3 linked regions of the Homo sapiens genome follow. The protein of the gene in region 1 interacts with the protein of each later gene in a pairwise test. Each region holds a gene or a part of one and is shown on either strand. Other genes may lie near its edges.

The links.
Region 2: the proteins of AIRIM (region 1) and LMO2 interact in binary tests that used the Homo sapiens proteins (3 or more experiments, as listed by UniProt).
Region 3: the proteins of AIRIM (region 1) and ZNF688 interact in binary tests that used the Homo sapiens proteins (3 or more experiments, as listed by UniProt).

What each region holds. Positions count from the first base shown.
Region 1 is NC_000001.11:37,681,070-37,687,552, reverse strand, and holds the end of AIRIM (AFG2-interacting ribosome maturation factor), read left to right. Parts: intron 1-1,100; coding exon 1,101-1,280; intron 1,281-4,111; coding exon of another isoform or gene 4,112-4,115; coding exon 4,116-4,234; intron 4,235-4,392; coding exon 4,393-4,430; coding exon of another isoform or gene 4,431-4,471; 3' UTR 4,472-5,983; downstream 5,984-6,483. UniProt on the Homo sapiens protein: Part of the 55LCC heterohexameric ATPase complex which is chromatin-associated and promotes replisome proteostasis to maintain replication fork progression and genome stability.
Region 2 is NC_000011.10:33,889,062-33,896,923, reverse strand, and holds the start of LMO2 (rhombotin-2), read left to right. Parts: upstream 1-4,847; 5' UTR 4,848-5,129; intron 5,130-7,862. UniProt on the Homo sapiens protein: Acts with TAL1/SCL to regulate red blood cell development. Also acts with LDB1 to maintain erythroid precursors in an immature state.
Region 3 is NC_000016.10:30,569,211-30,576,483, forward strand, and holds ZNF688 (zinc finger protein 688), read right to left. Parts: upstream 2,505-7,273; 5' UTR 2,420-2,504; coding exon 2,224-2,419; intron 2,218-2,223; exon of another isoform or gene 2,015-2,217; intron 1,914-2,014; coding exon 1,800-1,913; intron 1,227-1,799; coding exon 706-1,226; 3' UTR 516-705; downstream 1-515. UniProt on the Homo sapiens protein: May be involved in transcriptional regulation.

The sequences.
Region 1 (6,483 bases):
GTCTCAAATTCCTGGCTTCAAGCTGTCCTCTGGCCTTGCCCTCCCAAACTACTGGGATTACAGGCATGCCACTGCACCTGTTTTTTTTTTTAAATGTTTTAATTAAAAAAAAATATATATTAGCTGGGCACGGTGGCTCATGCCTGTAATCCTAACACTTTGGGAGGCCGAGGTAGGTGGATCACCTGAGGTCGGGAGTTCGAGACCAGCCTGACCAACATGGAGAAACCCCGTCTCTACTGAAAAAAAAATACAAAATTAGCCGGGTGTGGTGGCGCATGCCTGTAATCCCAGCTACTCAGGAGGCTGAGGCAGGAGAATCACTTGAACCCGGGAGCCAGAGGTTGTGGTGAGCCAAGATCGCACCATTGCACTCCAGCCTGGGCGACAAGAACGAAACTCCATCTCAATAAAAAAACAAAAAACAAAAACAAAAACTATACACACACACACACACACACACACACACACACACACACACACACACACACACTTTTGAGACGGAGTCTCGCTCTGTCACCCAGGTTGAAGTGCAGTGACGCGAACTTGGCTCACTGCAACCTCTGCCTCTGGGTTCAAGTGATTCTCGTGCCTCCCGAGTAGCTGGGTCTACAGGTGTGCACCACCACACCTGGCTAATTTTTGTATATTTAGTAGAGACGGGGTTTTGGGACATTGGCTGGTCTCAAACTCCTGACCTCAGGTGATCCACCCCGCTCAGCCTCCCAAAGCTGGGATTACAGGCAACAGCCTCTGCACCCAGCCCCTTTCTTGATTCTTGAGCCACCCGTACCTCCAAGACACTGTCACTAATCTCCTTAGACCAGTGGTCTCAATTGGAGATGGTTTTTCTATGAGGGGACATTTGGCATCATCTAGAGGCATTATTGGTTGTTATGGCTTATGGAGGGTATAGGTATAGTTTACACCTGTCATTTAGTGGGTAGGGGCCAGGCATGCTCCTACACGTCCTACAATGTACAGGGCAGCCCTTCACAACAGAGAATCATGTAGTCCAAAATATCAGTAGTGCCAAAATTGAGAAACCTTCCTTTATACATGTCTCATGATATTGCCTAATGTCAGACTCTTTCTTGCAGAGCCATCCTCCTCAAGGTGCGAGACATGGTCAGCAGCCATGTGGAGCGAGTGTTTCAGATCTATGAGCAACACGCAGACACAGTTGGCATTGATGCTGTCCTGCAGCCTTCAGCAGTGAGCCCCTCTGTGGCTGACATGTTGGAATGGTTGCAGGATATTGAGAGACATTATCGAAAGTCGTATCCTTTGCACACATTTCAGGTCACAGCCAGAGCTGTTCTAAGTCTTTCAAATTTCAGTTTTCACAAGATTGGAAAACTAAGTAGTTTGAGTCAGTTCTCTTTGGTTCCTGAACTTGGATTCTTCCTGCATTCCTTTGTATAATCCTTCCTCTAATAATTTATCGAGTAGCTACTACCTGTCAGGCACTGTTCTTGGTGCAAAGAGACAGGCATTGAAAAAGGCAAGTAGAATGCTGAATGGCGATAAGTGTTATGGAGAAAAATAAAGCAGGGAAAGTGAGGAGTGAGGGTGGAGTTGTGATTTAAAATAGGGTGGTCAGAGCAGGCTTCATGAGAAAGTGATATTTGAGCAGAGATCTGAAGAGGGTAAGGGAAAGAGCTATGTGGCTATTTGGGGAGAGAAAGTTACTAGGCAGAGGAAACATCAAATGCAAAGGCCTTGTGGTAAGAACATTCCTGGTCTATTCAGGAAATAGTAAGGAGGCTAGACTGGAGCATGAGGAGGAGCCTAACAGCAGGTGAGGGTAGAAAGACAGGGGGCTCGACTTTCTAGGGCCTTGAAGGTCTTTGAAAGAATTTGGGGTCTGGGCGTGGTGGCTCACACCTGTAATCCCAGCCCTTTGGGAAGCTGAGGTGGGAGGACTGCTTGAGCCCGAGAGTTTGAGACCAGCCTGGGCAACATGGTGAAACGCCGTCTCTACAAAAAATACAAAAATTAGCCAGGCATGGTGGTATGTGCCTGAAGTCTGTAATCCCAGCTACTCGGGAGGGTGAAGCTGGAGGATTGCTTGAACTGGGGGAGGTCAAGGCTGCAGTGAGCTGAGATCGTGCCACTGCACTCCAGCCTGGGTGATAAAGTGAAACTCTGTCTCCAAAAAAAAAAAAAAGAATTTTGGGCCAGGCATGATGGTGTGCAGCTATAGTCCCAGCTACTCAGGAGGCTGAGGTGGGAGGGTTGCTTGAGCGTGGGAGGTCAAGGCTGCAGTGAGCCTTGATTGCCAGCCTGGGTGTGATCACCAGCCTAGGTGACAGAGCAAGACCCTGTCTCAAACCACCCCCCGCCCACCCCCCCCCCCCAAAAAAAAGCATTCGAGTGACAGAAAAACCTCTTAGAAACTTGATTAAGGAGTAACAGGATAAGACCTATGTTTTTAACAGTATCATTCTGGCTTCGTTCTAGGGTAAGATTTGGGGTAGTGGGGGCAAGGGTAAAAGCAGAAAGACCAGTTAGTTGAAGCTCTAACATTTTTCTCTCAAAAAAATTTTTTTTTTGCCTAGGAGATGGGGTCTTGCTGTGTTGACCAGGCTGGTCTTGAACTCCTGGCCTTGATGATCCTACCTCCTTGGCTTCCCAAAGTGCTAAGAGTACCGGTGTGAGCCACCATGCCTGGTCTTCTCTCAATTCTTGTCTGACACCTGATTTTAGCCTCTAGCTTAGGTTTCTGCCTTCATGTGAATAATTCCCAAACCCCAACTTTTCTTGTCTCTGGTCTTGACTTTTGGTTTCCTGCAGATGCCTCCAACTGGATTGTTCTTAGAACTGCAAACTCAAGTTTAAAATTGAACTCCTCAATCTAGCCCTCAAATTCAGCCCCCTTTTCCTTGAGTCGTAGAACCCACCCTGTTTTCTCTTTTATTTATTTATTTTTTGAGACAGAGTTTTGCTCTTGTTGCCCAGACTGGGGTGCAATGGCACGATCTTGGCTCACTGCAACCTCCACCTCCCGAGTTCAAGCAATTCTCCTGCCTCAGCCTCCCAAGTAGCTGAGATTACAGACACCTGCCACCACGCCTGGCTAATTTTTGTACTTTTAGTAGAGAGGCGGTTTCACCATGTTGGCTAGGCTGATCTGAAACTCCTGACCTCAGGCCTCCCAAAGTGCTGAGATTACAGGCTCGAGCCACCGCGCCCGGCTTATTTTCCCTTTTAAATGCATTGGTAGCAGTAGTAGTAACAGCAACAGGAGCATGGGCAGAAGGAGCAAGAGCTGCGGCTGACATTACTAAGCACTTGCTATGTGCTAGAATGTTTACACAGTCACTTGTCAAGTCCTTTCCTTCTGTTTCCCTGGTGCTTCTTTGATTTTCCCTCTCTGTCCCCATCCCCTCTGTTGCTTACATGGCTTCTTAGCTCTCACTTGGACTCTTAATTGCCTCTTGACAGTTTTCTCTGTCTAGTTTCTTTCCTTCTAAGCTGACTCCAATGAATGACCTCTATATCTGCAGGAAGTCTGGTTCTGATCCTGATAGTTAGGATCAGAATTGTTCTGTACTGTATAGGAATAGCTCCTGTTGCTAATGGGATAAAGTTCAGAGCCCTGCGTTGGTACTTGGTGTTCTTTCTGTTCTGGCTCAGCCCACCTTTCAGCCTTTCTGACTGCTCTCCATGTGGCGTCCATGCTGAGCAGACTGGAAGATTTGCTTTCCCTGAATTCATTCTATGCATCTCCACCTCTGTGCCTTTGTTCATGTTTCCTACCAGCTGGGGTGTCCCTGCTTCCTCTGAATTGGATGTATTTATCCTCTGAACCTCCGCTAGCTTTACCTCTCATGTCCCTTTTGTTCTTTCTTTTCAGGATCTGATTTTGTCCTCACCATGCTGAGATCCCAGATTTCAGGGATGGTTTCATTCCTCTTTCCCTGTAGCACAAAGCCATGTTAGTAAACAGTTGCTCAGGAAATATTTGTAGCATAGGTGAATCAGGCCCACCTGGTAAAATGTAAGGATATCTGCACTTTCACTTTTATGGCTCCCTCTGGTTCTCACCAGGGTGTTTTTTTTCACTTCAGCATACTGCATTTTCTTTTGAGCAGTCCTTAACTTCCAGAAAGGTACCTGAAGAGAAAGTATCTTCTTTCGTCTATCCAGTGGGGAGACTTGGCAAACATACAAGCTTTGCCCAAGGCCTGGGACCGAATTTCAAAAGACGAACACCAAGATCTTGTACAAGGTACTGGTTTGTGTTCTTCCTTTGTGTCTCCTCTCCTCCTTTCTCTCCCTGTGGCTCGCCTCTTTGGAAGCATTAGGAAGGTGCCCTTGCTGTGCCTCTGTGTGTTTTATGTTCTCGGGAGAGGTGATAATGCCATTTTTTCTGTCTTCCTATTTCAGATATCCTATTGAATGTTTCCTTCTTCCTGGAAGAGTAAGGAAGCTATGCGTATCTGGAGACCACGGGTACCACAGTTGAAGACTGACATTCTGAACCCTGATGTTTCTAAAGAAACGTCAGTATTTCAGTCTGACATATTTGAAACATCAGTGCCTTGAACCTTAGGACTGGGTCTTGGGGAGGATTAGCGCCTAGATGTCTGATTTTGGAGCTGCAGCATGCCAGGCCGTGGCTGAGAGTATGTGAGCCATGCCTTGCCCTTTTCTGAGGCTCAGGGAAGTGGATGGAGCTAGAGAGACAACAGGAAAGACGGTGCTGAAGAACATAGTGTCTTTCCTCTATTGTGGACCTAAAGAGGTGGGGAAGCAAGGACAAGAGGCAAAGAGCCACACTGCCCTTGGCATCATCCAAAGCATTGTCTGGTTGACACCAGGTCCTGGTTTTGTGTCTTTTGTCAATACCTGAATCCTTGACAAAAGAAAAAGTGGTTTTGATGATTTAAAGAAATAAGGGTGATTTTGACAGAAAATATATTTTAAAAATTTTGACCAATTGCAATAGTTATCCTCAAGCCAATTTCCAGAACCTGCCACCAGGGGGAGGTGGTGCAGCATGAATCATTCTGAATGCTTTGTCTTTGAAGTGTTCCCCTATTGCTGTTACCATCTCAGAGGAAGTAACTGGGCATGGTGAGACTCCTAAAATGACAGGAGTTTTTTTGGCCAAAGCTGGCATCTGACTTGCCACATTCCTCTGAGTCTGGAGTAGCCGCAGGGGTGGGAGAATGCCAGCCCAGAGTCAGTCCATCGGGGTTACATTTCCAAGGTCTGCTGCCTTCATCTATGTAATGGCCGTGTTACTTTCAGATCTTTCAGCTTCCCAGAGTGTTGTGGGAATCTTGGTCATTGAATGTAAAGGGACTTAGTAAAGGGTATAGATATTTTTCAAAAATGAAAATAACTTTTTTTCTTATAAGTGATAAGCTTTTATAAAGATCATAGGAAAACTAGAAAAAATGTAAAATGTAGAAAATTGTAAAACAAACTTCATTAGAGATATTTTGATAGATACCTTTTCAGTGTCTATTTACAAATTTTTTCTTTTAATATAGATAGGGTCTCACTATATTGCCCAGCTCACTCCTGAGCTCAAGGGATCCTCCCACCATAGCCTCCCAAAATATTGGAAATACAGGCATGAGCCACTGCTCCTGACCAATTCACAAATTTTTTTAAAGAACAAACGTGCTATCATCGATACATACTGTTAGGTTGTCTTTTTTTAAAAAACCTAATGTAATTTGTTCATCTTTTTATATCTGTAAATATAGCTCAACACAGTTATATTCTTTTTGTGAATGTATTATATCTACAATTTACCTTTTTTCTTAGATTTTACATGCATTTTCCCAAATCTTTGTGTTTGCCTATCTGTAAAGGTAATACATTCTGATTACAAAAAATGAAAATGTTACATAGAAATGTACCGTTATCCATCTACCAGATAACTATTATTAATAATGTGTATTTATTTTTCCAGGAATTAAAAAACATCTATCATATAAGTATTGCAAATAAAACTTAAAAAGCATTTAAGTGTCAAGTCTTATGTTGGGCTCTGGGGACAGAAATAAAAGAGAGCCCTAGAAAGGCTCACAGTTCCACCAGGGAAAGATTAATGTGCAAATAAGTCACTGATATCTTGTTAAAATTTGGATTCTGATTCTGTAGGTCTGGGATGGGGCCCAGATTCTGCATTTCAAACGAAGTCTCAGCTAATGGTCCAAGGACCAGACTTTGGATTGCAGAGACTTAAGTTGTAATACAATAATAAAAGTGTTATAGTTAAGGTAAAAACAGGTGCTGTGGGAGAATAGAGATGATAACTAATTGCCTGTGGAACTCCTTCTTGATGACAGTGACATTTGAGGTAGGCCTTGAAGGGAATTTTACCTGGGGCTAGGAGAGGGGTGCGGGGCATTCCATGCACAGGGGATAATCTAAACAAAGGCCATGTTTGAGGCAGGATGGAAGCCAACACTTGACGAAAGCTAGCTGTGTGCCAGGCATTGTGCTTGTTGCCTTTACCCT
Region 2 (7,862 bases), on another chromosome or scaffold:
TACATGGTAGAAGGGGCTGAAGCAATGTCGTGCCTGATCCTACCATAGAGAGGATAAAGGGGAGGAATGAGGGATGGGGATCATTTCAGACACTGATAATTCAAGCAGTTAAGCTGGATCACAAAGTAATATATGCTGCTTTCAAAATGTCTAGTTCATGATTCATTATTGCTTATTATGAGGACTTAGAGTTTCAATCTGTAGAAGTTTCAATAAAATACAGATCTTAGAGATCATGCAGTCAAGCCAATTCATTTTACAGATGAGCATCACAGGTCCCAGACCACACACGCCTTCAGATAAAAACAGGGTCGCAGAGGTGGTGACCAGGCCGGAGTTGGTGGATTCCCCTGGCTCCTGCACTATGGGGGCGCTAGATCTGTCACATTCCTTGCCCCTTTACAAATAGTTTTGGGAGCAAATCCCCAGGAATGTTTCTTGTGGATTCACATGTATCAAGGATACTCATTTCCACACCAAAGGCATTGATGCCCCACCTGGCACATAACAGCCACTCAATAAATGTGTTAGATGAATGAATGAATGAATGTGTAAGTGTGAATGACCTCAAAGGTGAGTGATGCTGCCTAAACCAAGGTCATCGAAACTGGCCCTTAGGGCACCATTCCCTGAAGCCACCCGTGCCATCATCTTTATTCACAGCCAAGCAGCTGGCCCCAGAGCTTTGTGTCTTGCTCTTCCCCAGATATCTCAGTGAAAAGCCTTTGATTCAATTTTCACTCCCTCTCTTATAGCTCTCTTGCTCTAGGACTCCACTGGGGGTCCGAGAGCTGTTCTTCCTCTGCTATTTCCTGTTGTTCTTGAATAAAACAAATGCCCCTTCAACTTTGCTTCTCCATGGGACATGTTGTTCTCTGAGAGGCTCCTTGATCCTGCAAGTAATTAGGTCTGGAAGGGAGGGTGTCCTATTGGCCCTCCAGACTGGTTCAGACATGTCTAGACCCAGCTTAAATTACCTTGTCTGTTACACAAGGATGGTAACATGTTGGAAAGAAAATGAGACAAGCACTTTGCTGCTGTCTGGTAGAGCAGGTGGGGCTCCTGTTTAACATTTGCTGATCTCCACTTAAGAGCAGAACATCATCAGCCTTAGTCGCCATGCTGAAATGGGCTCTGTCACTTGGATAGCGTTTGTCAGTTGAAAGCTTTCTCTCCATAAACATCAACAGACTGGAAACCCAGTGAAAACTTTGTTTTTAATATTTAAAAATTAAGTCTCCACATGCACTCTGGGACAGAGGGGCAATAAATTACAACTTGCTATGTGCCAGAGATTATACTAATTGTATATCTGATTAAATTCTCACAACAGCCTTAAGAGGGTTTTGTAATCCTCATCTGCAGATGAAAAGTGGAGGAGGAGAGAGTAAGTGGCTTGCCTGAGTAAGGGCCAAGACGGAATTCAAACCCAGATTTTTGATGTCACAAAGCTAGTATCCTGGCGGGGCGTGGTGGCTCATGCCTGTAATCCCAGCACTTTGGGAGGCCGAGGCAGGTGGATCACTTGAGGTCAGGAATTTGAGACCCACCTGGCCAATGTGGATAAACCCTGTCTCTACTAAAAATACAAAAATTAGCCGGGCGTGGAGGCAGGCGCCTGTTATCCCAGCTACGAGGGAGGCTGAGGCAGTAGACTTGCTTGAACCCAGGAGGCTGAGGTTGCAGCGAGCTGAGATCACGCCCTGCTGCACTCCAGCCTGGGTGACAGGAACAAGACTCTGTCAAAACAAAACAAAAAAAAAAGCTAGTATCCTTCTCTTAGTGTTGCCCCCTGCAGAGGAACTGTTTTTTTTTTTTTTTCTTTTAAAGCACCCTACATCACATAATGTCAGCTGGACTTTTCTGTGATATTAACACTGGGATCCTGTAAAACACTATATTCTGACCATAGTCTGACACTCTGCATAATGAACAATTAGCCGGGAAAACATAGTATTTGAACCTCCTTTGCAGAGAGGAAATTCTCACAACTCCAAAGCAATAGTCAGCCCACAGTCAATGCCATCTCATCACCCAGCCCAAGGCTCGGCCTAAAACCTTCTAGAGGGTCTCACTCTAAAGATAACCCAAAGGTCTCACAGCTTCCTGGTTGCAAAAACGACAACAGGAGCAGGAATTGAGACCTAAAGATCATTTGGGTAGAAATGAGGAAAGAAATGACATGTTAAATGATGATTTTTCCCTAACTTGCCTTGTTCTTTCTAGATGTGGCTCAAGAACTTGCAGAGTTATGGTGGGATAATTCGACTGATCAAATGCTGAAAGTTTTCCTATCGACTTCAAGGCTGTTCAAATCTCTATGTACTTTGAAGTCTGAGGCACAAGATAATTTCCCAGAGATTCATGTTTCTATCGATGCTAGGCTGGGCTGACACAGATAACCCCTCAAGAGGCCTTTCCGAACTGCTGTATAAACTGTCCTGGGTCCAGCAATAAAGCAACTGTGTCATTATAGTTCTCTGCCCTTCAGAAGATCTGATCTTAATACCCTTCTCTTCTTTTTGTCCCTCTGATTTCATCAAATTTGTTGCCATTCTGGGTGTTTCTCCTTCTCTCCCCGACTTTTTCTACTTCAGATCAAAGAACTTCCCCTTTTTCCCACTTTTGGATTTGCGCCCTGGAGGACAACGCAAGGTTAACTTCCCTCCCACCTCCTCTTGTAGGCACACAGGGTGCCCCTTAGCCAGCGAAATCTCCGCGCCCGAGATCCTCTCACAATTTCAGGCTGGTGAATTGTAGTAGGAGACATGGTTTAGTTTGATGTGGTTAAGTCAGTCATCATGGCATCTTCGTACCCTCAGCCCCAAACCGCTCTCCTACTCATCACCCTCACTTTCATTTCTTTGGATTATCTTTCATCGGCTTACCACCAGCCTTCACAGCCTCACCCAAGGCTGAAGCAGGGCTAGCAGGGTGGTGCGTTTCCTTCCCTGGTTGAGCTGGTGACTGCTGTGGGTAAGCAGGTCCAATGTGAACTCAATTTTACATTGAGAAAGAGAAAGCAAGAGTGAGTGGGCTGCTAAGACTGTTGCTTCATGGTTTCCCCTAAGCCCCAGAAATAGAAAGGCAGACTTCCGACTGGCAGAGCCCGTATGCTAACCACCAGACCACACTGCCAGATAAGAAAAATGTTCGATTGTGTCATACTTCCCTCATTGGCTCCAGTGTCTGAAAATGGCCCTGAATTTCAGAGAGTCTTACCATGACCCAGGGATTTAGAGAGGATCGAAGAGGGAGGACAAAGGAATCAGGCACCTTCTCTCTCTCTTTTCTGGGGTAAATTTATTTTCAACCACAAAAGTAAAGGAAAGAAAAAGTCACAACAGATGAGTTATGAGCTAACTTTCTGATTTGCACATGTAAGAGAAAGAAATGAACTGGATATCATTAGACATTGAGAAAGGGAGTCTGCAAGCTAGCAATGTATCTTCGGCCTTTTTGATTTACACGTGTTTATTTATGAGTACCTACTGTGTGCCAGGCATGATGCTTGGTGCTGCCAATTCAAAGAGAAATAAGACACCTCCTTGCAAAGTGAGAAGGCAGAACTAGATTCAGATTCACCTAGATTTCAACTCTTGTGCTCAGGCCACCACCACCACCATGGAAACAATTTTGCTTGACTCTCCCGGCGCAGCCGCGGCAGGCGTGTGTGTTGTCAGACACTGCAGGAAGAGTGATGGCCTGGGTGTTGACAGGCTCCTAATTGGAAGGTAGGAGGTGCCACCAGAGATCAGCTATAAAAGATATCTTTGGACTGGGGTGGGCTGCTAATGCTTGGAAGAGACTTGTGGGTGAGGCCCGGTGAGCTGTCACCTCGGAATTGGGCCTTGCCCAGCAGACAGACATGCATGCGGGGGAGGTAGCTGACAGACAGGGGCGCATGGGGAAGCAGCCATTCCAGAGAACTGCAACAGCAGATTGCAAACCAGGACTTCAGGACTCAGAGGGGGACAAGGAAAGGAGAGCCTATAGTGGCCCCAAAGCCCAGGGTCAGAGGCAGGGCCAGGAGAGCAGCTGACAAGAGCTTTATGGTAAGGACAAAAGAGAAGACAGCCGGAGTCTCCTTTTATTCAGCTCATAAAGACCCAACTTCTGTGCACTTATAACTGTTCAGACCCTGAGGGGTTCAAAAAAAGAACCGTGTTAGGAGAATTCAATATTTAATTAAGAGATGATCAGATCCGTGCACCGAAATTATTGCTGGGTAAGACAATACTGTGTGTGTTACATAGCATTGGAACTTAGGAAAGCTCTTTCCTTGTGTTGTTTAATTTAATCCACTCAACAACCCTGCAAAGTGGGTACCATTGTCCCTGTTTTTTATGAATGAGGGGGTGAGGTGCTGAGAAGCTGTGTACGTTATTTGAGTTTGTCTGGCTAGTCAGTGGCTGAGCCAAGTTCCAATCCAGGTCATGTGAGCCTCTGAACTTTCTGATAAAACCTGCAGACCCCCTTAACTGGGATAATATAGTCATGCATTAAGCAAGAAGGAGAAGTAAATACAGGCTGATGGTGTAGGGGAGAAATTCAAAGGGAGAAGGCCTAGGAGGGAGAGGGAGCTATGTGTGAACAGAACCAAAGATGGCCTCTGGGAATTGGAAGGTCTCTTGGAATTCGTCCAAACTGAGGATCACAAGTCTCCACATTCTGAGTAGGAGGATGAGGGTCTGAGTTAGGATTTGGGTCCTGCAGGGCTTGCTAAGGAATCCCCTGATGGCCTAGGATTCCACGCAGAGCACATCTGGTGTGAGAGAGCTCGCTGCAAGGGTGAAGGCTCCGCCCTATCAGATAGACAACCAGGCCACCAAGAGGCCCAGCCCTCCAAACCCTGGATTTGCAACATCCTCAAAGAACAGCAACGGGCCTTGAGCAGAATTGAGAAGGAAATACCCCCACCTGCCCTCAGCCGTTAAGTGGGCTTTGCTATTCACAAGGGCCTCTGGGTGTCCTGGCAGAGAGGGGAGATGGCACAGGCACCAGGTGCTAGGGTGCCAGGGCCTCCCGAGAAGGAACAGGTGCAAAGCAGGCAATTAGCCCAGAAGGTATCCGTGGGGCAGGCAGCCTAGATCTGATGGGGGAAGCCACCAGGATTACATCATCTGCTGGTGAGTAGGCTTCATTAATTCTCTGATGAATGGACGATTGCAAGGGAACTTTTTTCATCTTCAAGGAGCCAGAAGAAGTGGTGATTAAATTGGTCTTTTAAAATAAAAAGACTCCAAAGGGGTACAAGTCTTCAAGCTTCCCCTGTGGTGTTCCGGGCACTCTGGCTTCTCTTTCGGAGGGAGGAAGAGCATCTATTCATAGGCTGTGACTTGGAGAGGCCCCACGGTGAGTCAGGCGCTTGCTGTGTGAGCCGCTGGTTGCTAATGTCTTCGGGAACTGCTAATTTACCCATCTAATTTGTTCCTGTACACTGGCCACAAAGGGAGACCACTCAATTATTCTGATCCAAAAGAGAGGCTTGTGTTTACCATGATCTCCCCAGCAACTGTGTGAGTGTGTGTGCATGTGTGTGTGTGTGTGTGTGTGTGTGTGTGTGTGTGTGTGTGTTTGCCTAACAACCTTAGGCAATGACGAAGAGGTGGGGCTGCTGCCCTTGTTAGCATTTTCAAACACATTCCAGTTCTGAGTTGAGGGCAAAGATTGTAATGGGGTGCTTCAGAGAAGCCTTGGCTCCCAAGGAGGTTATAACTTCAAAGGGTGTTTTTGAAAAACCAAGGCGGATGAGGAAAGTGGCTACAAGTTCCTTCCATCACAGAGGATCAATGAAGGGGAACAAAGATTTGGGAGCATCTACTTTGTGCCAGGTACTGTGCTTGGGTTTTACACGTCTTCTCTTGTTGACTTTGCATAACTCCCCTTTGAAGCAGATATTACTCCAGGTTCTTGCCGTAATGTTTCAGCTTAAAGAAAACCAACCCATACTTCTTTAGGTTGCCCTGAAAAGGTGAATCTTCTGTGAAGCCTTTTCTGTCTTTATCTGTTAAAATTAATTAAGCTCTTGTTTGTGCTCCCAGAAAATCACTTTAGACCTTAGAAAGATGGCAGCCTCAGTTTTCTCATTTGTAATATAGGGGTACCCATAGGGTCATTGTGAGAAATAATAGAAATAAATCATGGAAGTGCTTGGATAGTAGCTGGTACTTAGCCCTCATCAGTCATCATTGTCATTGTTGTTAAGAGTAATAATAATAATAATATCACTTATTATAATTACTCACCTCTAGGTTTTTAAAAAACTTACAGGCCGGGCACATTGGCTAACGCCTGTAATCTTAGCACTTTGGGAGGCCAAGGCAGGCAGATCGCCTGAGGTCAGCAGTTCAAGACCAGCTTGGGCAACATGGTGAAACCCTGTCTCTACTAAAAATATGAAAATTAGCCACGCGTGGTGGCTCATCCCTGTAATCCCAGCTACTCGGGAGGCTGAGAGAGGAGAATTGCTTGAACCCGGGAGGCGGAGGTTGCAGTGAGCCAAGATGGCACTATTGCACTCCAGCCTGGGTGACGAGAAACTCCATCTCATAAAAACAAAAACAAAAACAAAAAAACTTACATAAATTTATGGGGAACAAGTACAATTTTGTGACAAGCGTAAATTGCATAGTCTTGAAGTCAGGGCTTCTAAGGTATCTATCACCAGATTGATATCTATTGGTATCTATCACCAGATTGATATCTATTGATATCTATCACCAGATTGATATCACCACATTGTACCTATTAATTAATTTCTCATCATCCTCCCCCCACCCTTCTGAGTCTCCAGTGTATATTATTCCATACCCTAATGCCATGTGTTCACATTATTTAGCTCCCACTTATGAGTGAACAGTGTGATATTTGTCTTTCAGTGTCTGACTTTTTTAACTTAAGATAACAGCTTCCAGTTCTACCCATGTGGCTGCGAGAGACATGATTTCATTCTTTTTTATGGCTGAATAATATTCCATTGCATATATATACACCACAGTTTTAAATCCAATCATCCATTGATGGACACTTAGGTTGATTCCACATCTTTGCTATTGTGACTAGTGCTACGATAAACATACAAGTGCAGGTATCTAATTATTTCTTTTCCTTTGGATGGATACCCAGTAGTGGGATTGCTGGATTGAATGGTAGTTCTAATTTTAGTTCTCTGACAAATCTCCATACTGTTCTTCCTAGAGATTGTACTAATTTACATTCCCACCAACAGCGTATAAGAGTTTCCTTTTCTCCACATCGCCACTAGGTTGTAAGTTCCTTGAATGTAGGGATCATGTCTCTTTTCTTCATTGTTTTATAACAAGAGCCTAGGAGTGTTTGGCACATGGCAAGTACTTGTTTTCTAGCTGACAGATGAATGAACAAATGAGTGAAGGATGCTTCCTCCTCACTGCTGTGAGCTTCTGAGAATGGACCCTTGTCTGACCTGCTTCTGTATCTCTAGTGTGACTGCTTTGTCTGGCACAACAGAACTGCTCAGCGATTCTGTTGAACGGATGCTGCTGCCTGGCCCGTATCTGGCCTGGAGAGTCTGGCTGCGAGCTCATCTGTGCTCTGGTCTGGCTAAGGTTAGCTGCAGCCCTAGGAACTCAGAGAGTGTGTCCTGGACATTTCACCCCTAGTTGGTGAGCTCCTCAAGGGTAGGGACGGTGTCTTGTTTATTTTTAAATTCTTGGTGCCCAGTACAGTGCCTGGTACACAGGAGATGCTCAAATGGCTACCCCTAGCCTCTGAGGTCCCACTGCACTCAAAGAAGAGCAGAGCTCCAAATGACCTTGTCATCTTTCCCCTATTACCCAAACCTGTTCAATTTCCCCATTTCTGTTTATTAAAGATCCATT
Region 3 (7,273 bases), on another chromosome or scaffold:
AGCAGTCCTCCCACCTCAGCCTCCCAAGTGGCTGGGACCACAGGCACGATGTGCCACTATGCCTGGTTCATTTTTTTTTTTTTTTTTTGTAGAGATAGGATTTCACTATCTCTAGATAGTGATATCCTAGATATCTAGATATCGCTAGATAGCCTGTTGCTCAGGCTGGTCTGAACTCCTGGACTCAAACGATCCTCCCTCCTTGGTCTCCCAACAGAGGCTGGATTTGTGCCACCTGCATCTATTCTACTCCCATCCACTCCAGTGTCTGGGTCCCCTGCTGATGACAATTAGCCAGGGTTTGACCACGCCCTCCATGTAGGTCCCCTCCCCAGGCCCTGGTCCCCCTCAGCATCTGCATCTGAAATAGATAAGGAGTGGCTAGTTCCTGAGATGATATAAAGGTCTCTGTTGCACCTGATCTTCAGATAACACTTTGAAATGAGTCCAGGGTCTCACTCTCTTCTTTTTTTTTTTTTTTTTTTTTTTTTTTGTTAAACAAAAGACTGGGGAGATGGGTGGCAAGTCTAATCTATTCGAATCTTTACAGGCACTTTTCTTTTTACAAGTTGGAAACTTGAGGGATCCTTGAGGAAAGCCCAGGGCATGAATTTCAGTTCCGGAGTCCCCGACTCAGTGGCCCACCTCAGGGATCCGTCAGTCCTTCGTGCCAAGGTCAGGCTCAACTCCAGCCTGCGGTGCCGCTCAGCCGCACTCCTCGAAGATGTCTGGGTAGTGCCGGAAGAGCACAGGCGGGTCCCGGTCACCTCGGACGGGGGCCCGAGGCACAGCCCGGATCCCAGGCCTCCGGCCCCGCCGCCCCCCGGAGCAGGAGCGGTGGATCCACTGGTGCGCTTCCACTGCGAACTTCCTCTTGAAGCGCATGCCACACTCGGGGCAGGGGAAAGGCCGCTCCCCCGAGTGCATGCGCCTGTGGCTGACCAGCAGTGAGGGGTAGGTGAAGCGGCGGCCGCAGTCCGTGCACACGTGGCGCCGCTGGCCGGCCTGAGCATCCATGCTGGGTATGGGTGCCGGGGGCTGTGCTCCTGTGGTCGGGTCCCAGGCAGCATTTTTGGGTGGCTGTGCCCGTGCCGGGGCCACGCTAATAGCTGGGTCAGGGTTGCGTTCCACCAGCACTTCAGGACTCTCCTTCACAGGAGCCTTTCTAGGCCCTTTGGCTCTTGGGACTTCCTCCGGTTCCTCTTCCTTCCTGTTTGGGACATCTCCTGGGAAACCGGAATTAAGTTACACTTACAAACACTTTTGCACAGACTGTCTCAGGTTATAGAATGCTTTTCACTTAAGGCAGTGAGGGAAGTTCTGTCCAGTGATTAACACACAGGCTTTAGAACAAGGTAAACAGGATTCAGATCTCCTAAAAGTGCCTTATCTGAGCCTTGGTTCCTTATGCATCAAATGGGAATAATAATGGCTTTTGACTTCACAGCGTTACTGGTTTAGCTGAGTAGATGCATGTTAAGCACTTAGGAAGTGCTCAGGAAGCAGGGGCTATTATTTATTTATTTATTTATTTATTTATTTATTTATTTATTTATTTTTGAGACGGAGTCTCACTCTGTCACCCAGGCTGGAGTGCCTGGTTGGACTGGGCTCCCAGTCCTCACAGGACCGCTGTCCCATGTTCTGAAAACTTTGTACCAGGTCTGCCTTCTTTACTCCTCTAGTACCCAACACAGTTGAATTTCTTTAGGGATGCTGGAAGTGGGGGCCTGAAAAGAAACTCTGCTAGACAGGAAGCCCTGGAAAACCAAGTGGGGGGACCCGGGACTATCCCTCACCTCTCCGAGCTCCTCCCAGTCTTTCCCCCTTCTCAGGATCCTGGGCGGCGGGGCTCCAAGCCTCACTCTCCTGTTCCATCCAAGAGATGAGGGCTGGTTTGGGGCCTGGGAATCCTGGGAGAGAACAGGGATCACAGCGCGGGCCTGAGAGGCCATCGTGGGAAGATGGCATTCCCCTCCAGGCTGAGGGCACCCCCTCGGAGCTTATACTCAACCTGGAAGGGGCTGCAGTGCTGCTGCCTGAATGAAATGGATGCGGGTGAAAACACTCCCGAGGGGGTACCTGAAGCCCTGGGAACGGGAGGTGGCTGCTGGTGTTGGTGCAAGAGTGCGGGATTAGGGCTCACAGTCCTCTCGGCCCTTCTACATCATCTCCCCTGTGAACCCGGTGAAGGAGGAGGGGGCTCGGACCCGGGGCTCTCACCGAGCGCGCCCAGGTGGCCGTAGGTCTCCTGCATCACGTCCCGGTACAGAGCCCTCTGCGCGGGCCGCAGACAGCCCCACTCCTCCGGGGAGAAGTACACGGCCACGTCCGCGAAGCTCACAGTCCCGGGCTTCCTGCAACCAGGCCGGGTCTCCCCGGGCCTCGGCGCCAGGAGCGGGGCTGGGGGCGGCGCCATGGGGCCTCGCAGCCCCGATCGGCGGCCGCCAGGTCCCTGGAGCCGCCGCCTCCCCGCTCCCGGCCTCAGCTGTCGTTGTCCACAGGAAGGGCGGCCCCGCCCAGCCGTGGCGTCCGAACGCAGCCGAGGCAACCGAAGTAGCAGGGACTGGCTGCTAGGGATTCGAGGATTCTGATAGGGACAAATATAATTCCTCAGTGTTTATTCACTTCATGGCCGCTTGGACATAGACACCCGGGTTAAGGGACCCGGAAGGTGCCTTCTGAAAATATGGCGACCACCCTTCAATTGTCACAGGCTGCTCTTAAGGGCGCCATTATTTGACCATATCAAATATGGAGCCTTTCTGACTTCTCTGGCCTCATCGTCCCACTTGCCCTTAAATAAAGCCGCTTCGGCTGCTTTTTCTAGTGGGGGAGGCGGGGTGTCTGGGAAGTAGAGGAGAGGCTTCTTGCCTTCAAGAAAGATGTAAGGGCCCGAAGCTTCACTTACCCCTCTGTACCCGCAATACGCAACGGCCGATGATTGGCGACGATCCCGGAAGAAGCTGCGCGGTGATTGGCCTGGGACTGGCGGGGCATTTGAAGGGACCCCGCGGTCCTGAAGCCTCTGTTGACAGACTGGAGCGCAGCGGAGACCTCGGCATCTGCGGTGCTCGGGATTGTGTCCCCTACGGTCTCTTACCGTGCCTCCCGATGGCGGGAGCTGGAATTTGGTCCCCAGACCCCTTGGGAAGACGCGCACACCCTGGCAAACCATGTGTACACCCGCGGTAGAAGCAGGTGCGTGTTTTACAGTAGCTTAGCTGCGGAGTCCACCCAGCCCCTGGCATCCGCAGCTCGGCTCGCTCAGGCTCTAGACCGAAGCTGCAGGCGAAGGAACGTGCTTGGTGAGGATGGAATCGGAATGGGGAAGTTTTAAATTAAATAGTAATTGTTGCTAACATACATGAATTTATTTTTTGTTTGTTTTGAGACAGGGTCTTGCTCTGTGGCCCAGCAGTGCGATCCTAGCTCACTGCAGACTCGACCTCCCGGGCTGAAGCGATCTTCTCACCTCAGCCTCCCGAGTAGCTGGGACCACAGGCGCACACCCAATGCTTGGCTAATTTTTAAATTTTAAAACAGAGACAGGGTCTTGCTATGTTGCCCAGGCTGGTCTGGAACTCCTGGCCTCAAGCAATTCTCCTGCCTCGGCCTCCCAAAGTGCTGTGATTACAGGCATGCGCCACGGTTCCCAGCCATTTCTACTTTTTCTTTGAGAAGGAGTTTTACTCTTGTTGCCCAGGCTGGAGTGCAATGGCGCTATCTCGGCTTGCCCAGGCTGGAGTGCAATGGCGCTATCTAGGCTCACCGCAACCTTCGCCTCCCAGGTTCAAGCGATTCTCCTGCCTCAGCCTCCCAAGTAGCTGGGATTACAGGCATGAGCCACCATGCCCGTCTAATTTTGTATTTTTAGTAGAGACGGGGTTTCTCCATATTAAGTCAGGCTGGTCTCGAACTCCCGACCTCAGGTGATCCTCCCGCCTCAGCCTCCCAAAGTGCTGGGATTACAGGCGTGAGCCACGGCGCCCGGCCCTGCCATTTCTACTTATTTACGTTGTTCCAAATTATCAAAGATAGCATCAACTTTCAAATCCTAATTTTTTTTTTCCTGGGAAACCTTCCTCCTTTAGCCTTCAGTCTCCTCTCTAAACTGGGTTGGGCCTCAGTTCTTCTCATACCGGGTCTCCCCTTCCTGCTGTCCTGGGTTGTATCTTCCGCTTCCTAGATTTAAGGTCTTTATTTTTCAGCCAAGATGGGTCATCCTCATGGCTGGTGGCATTGGACTGTAAATACTAGTTGCCTTCATCCCCACATTTGGAATATACCTGCAATCATACAGGATGCAGAATACTGTTTGCTAAGCGTGGGGCTGGTTGCTGGAGATAACAAGCAAGGCCTACCAGGTCCCTGCTGTCATTCTGGCTCTGGATCTACTTGCTTGGCTCCCCTGCCAGCCCTAGTATATCGAGCCTTCCTTTTTATTCAATAGTGTTTTTTATTGCTGACTTTTCAGTCAAGATTTCTTTGTGTTTTCTGGCCTACCCTTGCTGTTTTTCACCTGAAATGCTTTTTGGCTTTTAGTGTGACTCCTGCTGATCTCATATGCATATGTTATTAATTGATTAATTATTAATTGTTAATAATTAAATATTATTAATATGCTTACATTATTACCTTGAGTTCTGGAACTGCCTCACTGCACTCCATGTGGTGAATACTGTAGAAATTATATAAGGAAAAATATATCCTTAGAAATGAGTATTTTTTAAATTTTGAAAATATTTAATTTAGGCCCAGCCCAGTTGCTCACACCTGTAATCTCAGCACTTTGGGAGGCTGAGGTGGGCAGATTGCTTTAGGCCAGAAGTTAGAAACCAGCATGGGCAACATGCTGAAACTCCATCTCTACTAAAAATACAAAAATTGGCCAGGTCTGGTGGTGCACACCTGTAGTCCCAGCTACTCAGGAGGCTGAGGCACAAGAATTCCTTGAACCCAGGAAGCAGAGGTTGCAGTGAGCAAGATCATGCCACTGCACTTCAACCTGCGTGACAGAGTGAGACCCCGTCTCAAAAAGAAAAAAAAATTGGGCTGGGCACAGTGGCTTGTGCCTGTAATCCCAACACTTTGGGAGGCCAAGGCGGGAGGATCACCTGAGGTCAGGAGTTCGAGACCAGCCTGGCCAACATGGCAAAACCCCGTCTGTACTAAAAATACAAAAATTAGCTGGGTGTGGAGTCGGACGCCTGTAGTCCCAGCTACTCAGGAGGCTGAGGCACAAGAATGGCTTGAACTCAGGAGGCAGAGGTTGCAGTGAGCCAAGATCACACCATTGCACTCCAGCCTGTGTGACAGAGCAAGACTCCATCTAAAAAAAAAAAAAACAAACAAAACAAAAAATATATTGATACACAAAATTTTTACATATTTATGGAGTTCATGTGATATTTTGCTTTTCTTCATACATAGAATGTACAATAATCAAGTCAGGATATTTAAGGTATCAATCACTTTGAGTATTTAACATTTCTATGTGTTGGGAAAATTTCAAGTCCTCTCTTCTAGCTATGGAAATTTACAGTACTTTGTTAACTACAGTCACCCTACTCTGCTATTGAACATTACAAGTTATCCCTTCTTCCTAAGTGTATGTTTGTACCCATTACCCAACTTCTCTTCATCCACCTCTCCCACCCACGTACACCCTTCCAATCTCTGGTATCATTCTACTCTCTACCTCCATGAGATCAACTTTTCTAGCTCCCACATGTAAGTGAGGACATGTGATATTTGCCTTTCTGTGTCTGGCTTATTCACTTAACATAATGACCTCCAGTTCCATCCATGCTGTAAACATGATTTCATTTTTTATGGCTTAAGTCCACTGTGTATATATATCATATTTTCTTTATTCATTTGTCCCCTGATCAACACTTAGGTTGATTCCATATCTTTGCTATTGTAAACACGGCTCTACAGTAAACACGGAGATGCAGGTTATCTTTTTTATATACTGATTTCTTTTCCTTTGGATAAATTCCAGGTAGTGGGATTGCTGGATCACATGGTAGTTCTTTTTTTTTTTTTTTGAGACGGAGTTTTGCTTTTGTTGTCTAGGTTGGAGTGCAATGCCCTGGTCTCGGCTCATTGCAGCCTCTGCCTCCCAGGTTCAAGTGATTTTCCTGCCTCAGCCTCACAAGTAGCTGGGATTACAGGCACCCTCCATCACACCCAGCTAAATTTTGTATTTTTAGTAGAGAAGGGGTTTTGCCATGTTGGCTAGGCTATTGTGAACTTCTGACCTCTGGTGATCGACCAGCCTTGGCCTCCCAAAGTGCTGGGATTACAGGTGTGAGTCACCATGCCCAGCCCACATGGTAGTTCTGTTTTTGTTTTTTTCAGACATCTCCATATTGTTTTCAGTAGTGGCTGTACTAACTTACGTTCCCACCAACAGTGTGTAGGAGTTCCCTTCTCTTTTTTTTTCTTTTTTTTTTTGGAGAAGGAGTTTCACTCTTGTTGCCCAGGCTGGAGTGCAATGGCACAATCTTGGCTCACCACAACTTCTGCCACCAGGGTTCAAGCGATTCTCCTGCCTCAGCCTCCCAAGTAGCTGGGATTACAGGCGCGTGCCACCACTCCTGACTAATTTTGCATTTTTAGTAGAGATGAGGTTTCTCCATGTTGGTCAGGCTGATCTTGAACTCCCGACCTCAGGTGATCCACCCACCTCAGCCTCCCAAAATGCTGGGATTACAGGCGTGAGCCACTGCGCCCAGTCAAGAGTTGCCTTCTCTTAGCATCCTTGCCAATACCTGTCATGTTTTGTCTTCTTAATAACAGCCATTCTAACTAAGGTACGATAATATCTCATTGTGTGCTTTTTTGTTTTTGAGTCAGTCTCGCTCTGCAGCCTAGGCTGGAGTGCAGTGGCGCAACCTCAGCTCACTGCAACCTCCCCCTCCTGGGTTCAACCGATTCTCCTGCCTCAGCCTCCTGAGTAGCTGGGATTACATACGTGCACCACCATGCCCAGCTAATTTTTTTGTTTGTTTGAGATGGAGTCTCGCTCTGTTGCCCAGGCTGGAGTGCAGTGGCGCGATCTTGGCTCACTGCAAGCTCCGCTTCCCGGGCTAACGCCATTCTCCCGCCTCAGCCTCTGGAGTAGCTGGCACTACAGGTGCCCGCCACCACGCCGGCTAATTTTTTGTATTTTTAGAAGAGATGGGGTTTCATTGTGTTAGCCAGGATGATCTCGATCTCCTGACCTCATGATCCACCCACCTCGGCCTCCCAAAGTGCTGGGATT